2 linked regions of the Homo sapiens genome follow. The protein of the gene in region 2 interacts with the protein of the main gene of each other region in a pairwise test. Each region holds a gene or a part of one and is shown on either strand. Other genes may lie near its edges.

Evidence for each region. The genes of interacting proteins can lie anywhere in the genome.
Region 1: the proteins of TFF2 (region 2) and DNM2 interact in binary tests that used the Homo sapiens proteins (3 or more experiments, as listed by UniProt).

The regions. Positions count from the first base shown.
Region 1 is NC_000019.10:10,770,079-10,773,578, forward strand, and holds part of DNM2 (dynamin-2), read left to right. Parts: intron 1-2,400; coding exon 2,401-2,550; intron 2,551-3,500. UniProt on the Homo sapiens protein: Catalyzes the hydrolysis of GTP and utilizes this energy to mediate vesicle scission at plasma membrane during endocytosis and filament remodeling at many actin structures during organization of the actin cytoskeleton.
Region 2 is NC_000021.9:42,348,195-42,352,148, reverse strand, and holds the start of TFF2 (trefoil factor 2 precursor), read left to right. Parts: upstream 1-1,154; 5' UTR 1,155-1,191; coding exon 1,192-1,270; intron 1,271-2,118; coding exon 2,119-2,268; intron 2,269-3,954. UniProt on the Homo sapiens protein: Inhibits gastrointestinal motility and gastric acid secretion. Could function as a structural component of gastric mucus, possibly by stabilizing glycoproteins in the mucus gel through interactions with carbohydrate side chains.

The DNA of each region.
Region 1 (3,500 bases), on a different chromosome or scaffold from region 2:
CTTGTGAGGCGCAACGGGACCACACGCAGGGCCTGGCCAGAGTGCCGTAGTTTCTTCGGTTGCCATGATGGGACGGTGAAACTCCTCACACTCTTCTTTCTGCCTTGAAGATTCTAGACCTGGCTGGGTGTTCATCTCCCTTTTTGCCTTTGCTTGAGGCAGTTTATGGCATGGCTGTGTTATTCACGTCGCCAGGTCTCCTCCTGGTGGACGTTGAGGCCATTTTCATTTTTTTACTCTTAAAAACGACAGGGCAGTGCGCATCTTCGCATCTCCGGGGTGGGTCAGGTCTCTGACCTCTTTGCCAGTGTGACTTATTACCCCTTTCTTTCTTTGTTTTTCTTTTTGAGACAGTGTCTTGCTCTGTCGCCAGGCTGGAATGCAGTGGTGTGATCATAGATCATAGCTCACTGCAACCTCCAGCTCCTGGCTCAAATGATCCTCCCACTTCAGCCGATATTAATCCATTTTCATGCTGCTGATAAAGACGTATTTGAGACCGGGCAATTTACAAAAGAAAGAGGTTTAATGGAGTTACAGTTCCACACAGCTGGGCTGGGGAAGCCCCACAATCATGGCAGAAGGCAAGGAGGAGCAAGTCACATCTTATACGGATGGCAGCTGGCAAAGAGAGTGAGAGAGCTTCTGCAGGGAAACTCCTGTTTTTAAAACCATCAGATCTCGTGAGACTTATTCTCTATCACGAGAATAGCACGGGAAAGACCCACCCCCATGATTCATTGATCTCCCACTGGGTCCCTGCTACAACACAAGGGAATTATGGGAGCTACAAGATGAGATTTGGGTGGGGACACAGAGCCAGACCATATCAGCCTCCCAAGTAGCTGGAACTACAGGTGTGCGCCAACATGCCTGGCTAATTTTTTAAATTTCTGTAGAGACGGGGTCTCACTGTGTCACCCAGGCCGGTCTTGAACTCCTGGGCTCAAGTGATCCACCCTCCTCGGCGTCCCACAGTGCTGGATAATAGGCGTGAGCCACTGTGCCCAGCCATTTCCCCCTTATTTTTAGCATCACTACAGTAGCTGTGATCTCTGAGCTTTGGGGATATCCCCTCCCCAACATTTTACTCTGAAAATTCGAACATCTGGAAACGTCAAGGCTTTGTACAGTGGACACCTGTGTACTCGGCAGCCACCTTCCGTGATGAACATGCCTTATATTTGCTTTGTCCTCAATCTGTGATTCGGGACTGGATTTCTCTTGTTTCCTGGTGGGACCCACACTGCTTGTCAATTACTTATTTTGTTCCCCTTCATCCCAGTCTTGCTGTGACTTTCAGATACCCCCGGGTCTTATATACACTCAGGGTTATACCCAGAAAACATTTCTCCTGGGGGATTTGTCTCTAGGTAGGGGGCCCTCTTGAATAGTCAGGGGGAGAAAGAAAGACTCAAGACCAGCTCTGAGGAGGCGGCAGGGGTGCCCCTTCCCTCTACCTTGTGGGCTCCTTGGGGAAGAAGGACAAGTGAGTGCCATGAGAAATACCCCTGGGGATTTTGTGGAGCTGGAATGTGCTGGTGGACCATGAATCCACAAGGACTTGGGCATCGAACTCCCTTGACTGGGACCCACAGCAAGGGAGGCTCTGCAGCATCACCTTAATCAAATGGACTCACCCTCTCTGGGTGATGTATCCTGGTGCTTCCTCTTCTGTTCATCAGTCAATCAACAAATAAATGGCTGGGCGTGGAGGCATATGCCTGTAATCCCAGAAACTTTGGTCATTGGTTATGTCTACCTGTTTATTTTTGGGGGAGGGGGATTCATAATATGTCATGACGTATATTAACAGTTTGCAAAGTGCCACATGGGAACGTAATCTTCAGGATCTGGAAAGAGGCTCAGTCTATTCAGTCTATAGGAACCCCCGCCTCCCCCAAGACCCTTGTCATGAGAACGAATCTTTCACTCCCAAATTCCTAGAGTGACGATGATTGGGTCATTATTTTCTTTTTTATTTTATTTTATTTTATTTTATTTATTTTTTTATTTTTTTGAGATGGAGTCTTCTCTGTCTCCCAGGCTAGAGTGCAGTGGCGCAATCTCGGCTCACTACAACCTCCGCCTCCCGGGTTCAAGCAATTATCCTGCCTCAGCCTCCTGAGTAGCTGAGACTACAGGCATGTGCCACCATGCCAGGCTAATTTTTTGTATTTTTAGTAGAGACAGGGTTTCACCATGTTAGTGAGGATGGTCTGAATCTCCTGACCTTGTGATCTGCCCACCTCTGCCTCCCAAAGTGCTGGGATTACAGGCGTGAGCTACTGTGCCCAGCCTGGGTCATTACTTTCATTCAACAAAGCATTTCTCCCCGCAGTCCATGCGCACCCTGCCCACAGCTCTTTCTCATTTTCAGCATCTCTCTTCCCTTTCTAGAACATGCCGAGTTTTTGCACTGCAAGTCCAAAAAGTTTACAGACTTTGATGAAGTCCGGCAGGAGATTGAAGCAGAGACCGACAGGGTCACGGGGACCAACAAAGGCATCTCCCCAGTGCCCATCAACCTTCGAGTCTACTCGCCACACGGTAGGCAGCACGGGTGGGGACCCATCACTGACCGTTTCTGGTCGTTCATGGACAGTGCTATGGGTGAGCCTGTGTACTTCCACTCATGGGTATCATGTGCCCATTCACAAACAGTTGATATTCACACACACATAGCCCCTTGATCTGTATCTTCCCACTTGTGCTAGGTATGTAGTACCCAGACCTCTGTCTCAGCTTGAAGAAAGAGCATGCCAAGAAGTTGTTTGGAGTGGTGGGGGATTGCAGCCATTTCCCCCTTTTACCAAGGGCAGCCACCACTTGGCTCAAGGCAGCCAGATCTGCTGGTGCCTCAAGAGAGGCCAGAACCAGTCTTCTGTAAAATATCCTGGGTTTTTTTTTTTTTTTTTTGAGACAGAGTCTTGCTCTGTTGCCCAGTCTGGGGTTCAGTGGTGTGATCTCTGCTCGCTGCAACCTCCACCTCCCAGGTTCAAGCAATTATTGTGCCTCAGCCGCCCAAGTAGCTGGGATTACAGGCATGCACCACTACACCCAGCTAATTTTTTTTTTTTTTTTTTTGAGATGGAGTCTCGCTCTGTCGCCCAGACTGGAGTACAGTGGTGTGATCTCAGCTCACTGCAGTCTCCGCCTCCCAGGTTCAAGCTATTCTCCTGCCTCAGCCTCCCAAGTAGCTAGGACTAGAGGCAACTGCCGCCACGCCTGGCAAATTTTTTGTATTTTTAGTAGAGATGGGATTTCACCATATTGGCCAGGCTTGTCTCAAACTCCCGACCTTGTGATCTGCCCACTTTGGCCTCCCAAAATGCTGGGATTACAGACGTGAGCCGCCGCGCCCGGCCAAATTTTTTTTTTTTTTTTTGAGACAGAGTCTCGCTCTGTTGCCCAGGCTGGAGTGTAGTGGCGCAATCTCCACTCAATGCAACCTTCACCTCCCGGGTTCAAGCAATTCTCTGGCCTCAGCCTCCCGAGTA
Region 2 (3,954 bases):
GGGGGCCTGGAGGACGGGGGCCTGGAGGATGATGGCCTGAAGGATGAAACCTGGAGGATGGAGCCTGGAGGATGGAGCCTGGAGGATGAGGGCCTAGAGGATGGGGGCCTGGAGGACAGGGGCCTAGAGGATGGAGCCCTGGAGAATGGGGGCCTGGAGGATGGAGCCTGGGGGACGAGGGCCTGGAGGATGGGGGCCTGGAGTATGGGGCCTGCTCTCCAGACCCTGAGGACAGCCCCGTGGTGGACCAAGGATTTTGGGTTTCCTGCGTCTCTGGGCCCCTGACTGCTCAACCATCAGAAACAGACTGGCAACCCCCTGTCATTTCCCTGGCGTGGGGAACTTCGGGTCCCCTCTGTCCTTCCCACCACACTTTTCCCTCTTTCTTTCCGGGTGTCTACTCTCTGGCTTCTGTCTTCTCTGTCAGGTCCACAGAATCCTTCTCCAGCACATCCTACCCCAGGAAGGCCATGGGCTGGGTCCCAGGTGCCATCTTTCAGAAGATGTAGAGCATTCCCATGGAACAAAAATAACCCATTTCAGGGGTTGGCTGAAAATGAACTTATTAAAACCTGCCTGTCACAGGCTACTCCGCTGACCCTGTCAGCCTCATCTCCATGGAGAGCAGCCCCTCCTGCTGAAGATGGGACAAAGGGCATCGTGCTGCGGTTGGGGAGGCTCTAACCACAGCCCTGGGAGCAGTCTCTTACCTCCTCTGAGATGCTTCCCTTCCTCAGGGAGGGGACTTTTCCATGCTATCTGCTGGCCTGTACATTTTCCCCAGTAAACTTGGCCCTAATATTTTCTAAATTCCTGTGGTCCCTGCCCACTCTATCAATAGAAATGCATAGCTTATCCCTTCCTGGGTGTGACCCTGTGTGTGCCCAGCCCCAGACCTGCACGTGGCCGGTTTTCCACGCTGGCAGCCTGGCATGACCCAACTCTCTGTCCAGGGCAGGAAGAGGTATCACCGAGCAGGGAGAGAGTCACCCTGGCCCGGAAGCCTCGCCTGCACAGGGCACAGCTGCCTCTTGCCTCCTCTTCGCCTCCACGGTGGAAGGGCTGGGGCCACGGGGCAGAGAAGAAAGGTTATCTCTGCTTGTTGGACAAACAGAGGGGAGATTATAAAACATACCCGGCAGTGGACACCATGCATTCTGCAAGCCACCCTGGGGTGCAGCTGAGCTAGACATGGGACGGCGAGACGCCCAGCTCCTGGCAGCGCTCCTCGTCCTGGGGCTATGTGCCCTGGCGGGGAGTGAGAAACCCTGTAAGTGAAGGAGAGGGTCTTTTTATGTGCTTTCTTTATTTCTCTTAAAGAAAAAAAAAAAGCACAACCATAAATTAACTTGAGAGGGGGAATGGCTATAAAGGCATCTGGCAATGTGTGTTGTTCACATGGGATTTGCCACTGCTCAGGAGGGTGGCTCCAAGAAGGGCCTCCCTCCTAGGGAAAGGCTGAGTGACGGCAGGTGTCAGCGGGCCCCGTGTCGGGCCAGGAGGGCATTCCCACCAAGGGTCCTTGGAGTCCCAGAGCACTCACCTCTCGCCTGGATCTTGGCCTTGGGTCCATCTGTTCACCCTCCTCTAGGAGGGTTTTGTTTTTGTTTTTTTCCGAGACAGGATCTGGCTTTGCCGCCCAGGCAGGAGTGCAGTGGTGTGATCTTGGCTCACTGCAACCTCTGCCTCCCAGGCTCAAGTGATCCTCCCACCTCAGCCGCCTGAGTAGCTGAAACCACAGTTGTGGACCATCATGCCCGGCCAATTTTTTTTTTTGTATTGTTTGTAGAGATGGGGTTTCGACATGTTGCCCAGGATGGTCTTGAACTCCTGAGCTCAAGCAATCTGCCCGCCTCGGCTTCCTAAAGTGCTGGGATTATAGGTATGAGCCACCATGCCTGGCTTTTTTTTTTTTTTCCTTTTAAACTAATATAACAATTTCAGCAAAGCCCTATCGGCTTCTCAGGAGGAAACCGCATTGCTTAAATATGGGCAAGATAAGACTTTGTGTTTCTCTATGTGGCAACAAGACAGTAGAGGCATCCCCTAGAACCTCTGAGAGAAGGAGCAGTGTGGTCTGGGGTACCAGGGTGGGGCCGACTGAGGGTCTTTCCACAGCCCCCTGCCAGTGCTCCAGGCTGAGCCCCCATAACAGGACGAACTGCGGCTTCCCTGGAATCACCAGTGACCAGTGTTTTGACAATGGATGCTGTTTCGACTCCAGTGTCACTGGGGTCCCCTGGTGTTTCCACCCCCTCCCAAAGCAAGGTAATCTTCCAGGGAATCTTCCTGGGCCAGCAGCTGGCAACCCAGGACCCAGCTTCACAGGCGGAGCCCAGAGCAGGGGCCGGAGGAGGCCCAGTTGCTAGTCTAGGGTTAGCCTGGGTGGGTTAGTCTCGAGCTAGCCCCGGTTGGTTAGTCTGGGGCTAGCCCAGGTTGGTTAGTCTAGAGCTAGCCCAGGTTGGTTAGTCTGGGGCTAGCCCAGGTTGGTTAGTCTGGGGCTAGCCCAGGTTGGTTAGTCTAGGGCTAGTGTAGGCTAGTTAGTCTAAGGCTAGCCCAGGTTGGTTAGTTTGGAGCTAGCGCAGGTTGGTTAGTCTGGGGCTAGTAGCCCAGGTTGGTTAGCCTGGAGCTAGCCCAGGTTGGTTAGTCTAGGGCTAGCGTAGGCTGGTTAGTCTGGGGCTAGCCCAGGTTGGTTAGTCTGGAGCTAGCCCAGGTTGGTTAGTCTGGGGCTAGTAGCCCAGGTTGGTTAGTCTGGGGCTAGCCCAGGTTGGTTAGTCTAGGGCTAGTGTAGGCTAGTTAGTCTAGGGCTAGCCCAGGTTAGTTAGTTTGGAGCTAGCACAGGTTGATTAGTCTGGGGCTAGTAGCCTAGGTTGGTTAGTCTGGAGCTAGCCCAAGTTGGTTAGTCTAGGGCTAGCATAGGCTGGTTAGTCTGGGGCTAGTAGCCTAGGTTTGTTAGTCTGGAGCTAGCCCAGGTTGGTTAGTCTAGGGCTAGCGTAGGCTGGTTAGTCTAGGGCTAGCCCAGGTTGGTTAATCGGAGCTAGCCCAGGTTGGTTAGTCTGGAGCTAGCCCAGGTTGGTTAGTCTGAGGCTAGTAGCCCAGGTTGGTTAGTCTGGGGCTAGCCCAGGTTTGTTAGTCTGGAGCTAGCCCAGGTTGTTTAGTCTGGAGCTAGCCCAGGTTGGTTAGTCTGGGACTAGCCTGGACTGCTAGTCTAGAGGTAGCCTAGAGGACTGCTAGTCTAGAGGTAGTCTAGGGCTAGCCCAGGTTGGTTAGTCTGGGGCTAGCCCATGTTGGTTAGTCTTAGACTAGCCTGGACTGCTAGTCTAGAGGTAGCCCAGGTTGTTTAGTCTGGTACTAGCCTGGACTGTTAGTCTAGAGGTAGCCCAGGTTGGTTAGGTTGGTTAGTCTGGGACTAGTCTGGACTGTTAGTCTAGAGGTAGCCCAGGTTGGTTAGTCTGGGACTAGCCTGGACTGTTAGTCTAGAGGTAGCCCAGATTGGTTAGTCTGGGACTAGTCTGGACTGCTAGTCTAGAGGTAGCCCAGGTTGGTTAGCCTGGGGCCAGCCTGGACTGTTAGTCTAGAGGTAACCCAGGTCAGCCAACAGTGAGATGAAAATTTCCCACCTACCCTGTTTCTACACTGTTAGTTCTTTCAACAGACATGTGTGTGTGGAGCCATCAGTTTTACTTTAGTTGAGAAAAAAATATATATATATATAGTAGGTCTCCTCTAGTTTTTGAAGTGTGACTTCTGAAGAAGCTTCCATGGGGAAATGAAGGTATTTAATAGGACAGCAGTAACATAAGGGCTGACAGCCCTCAAATGTTAGGGAAGGAAGTGAAGCCTTCTAGGGTTCTTTGGGAGTGAGTTTTATGTTAGTGCACGGGATCAGGACCCAAGTTGTAACGCCGACGAGTGCTCAAAGGAAGGTTGTGTGTGTGTCGTGCACCTGTGTGC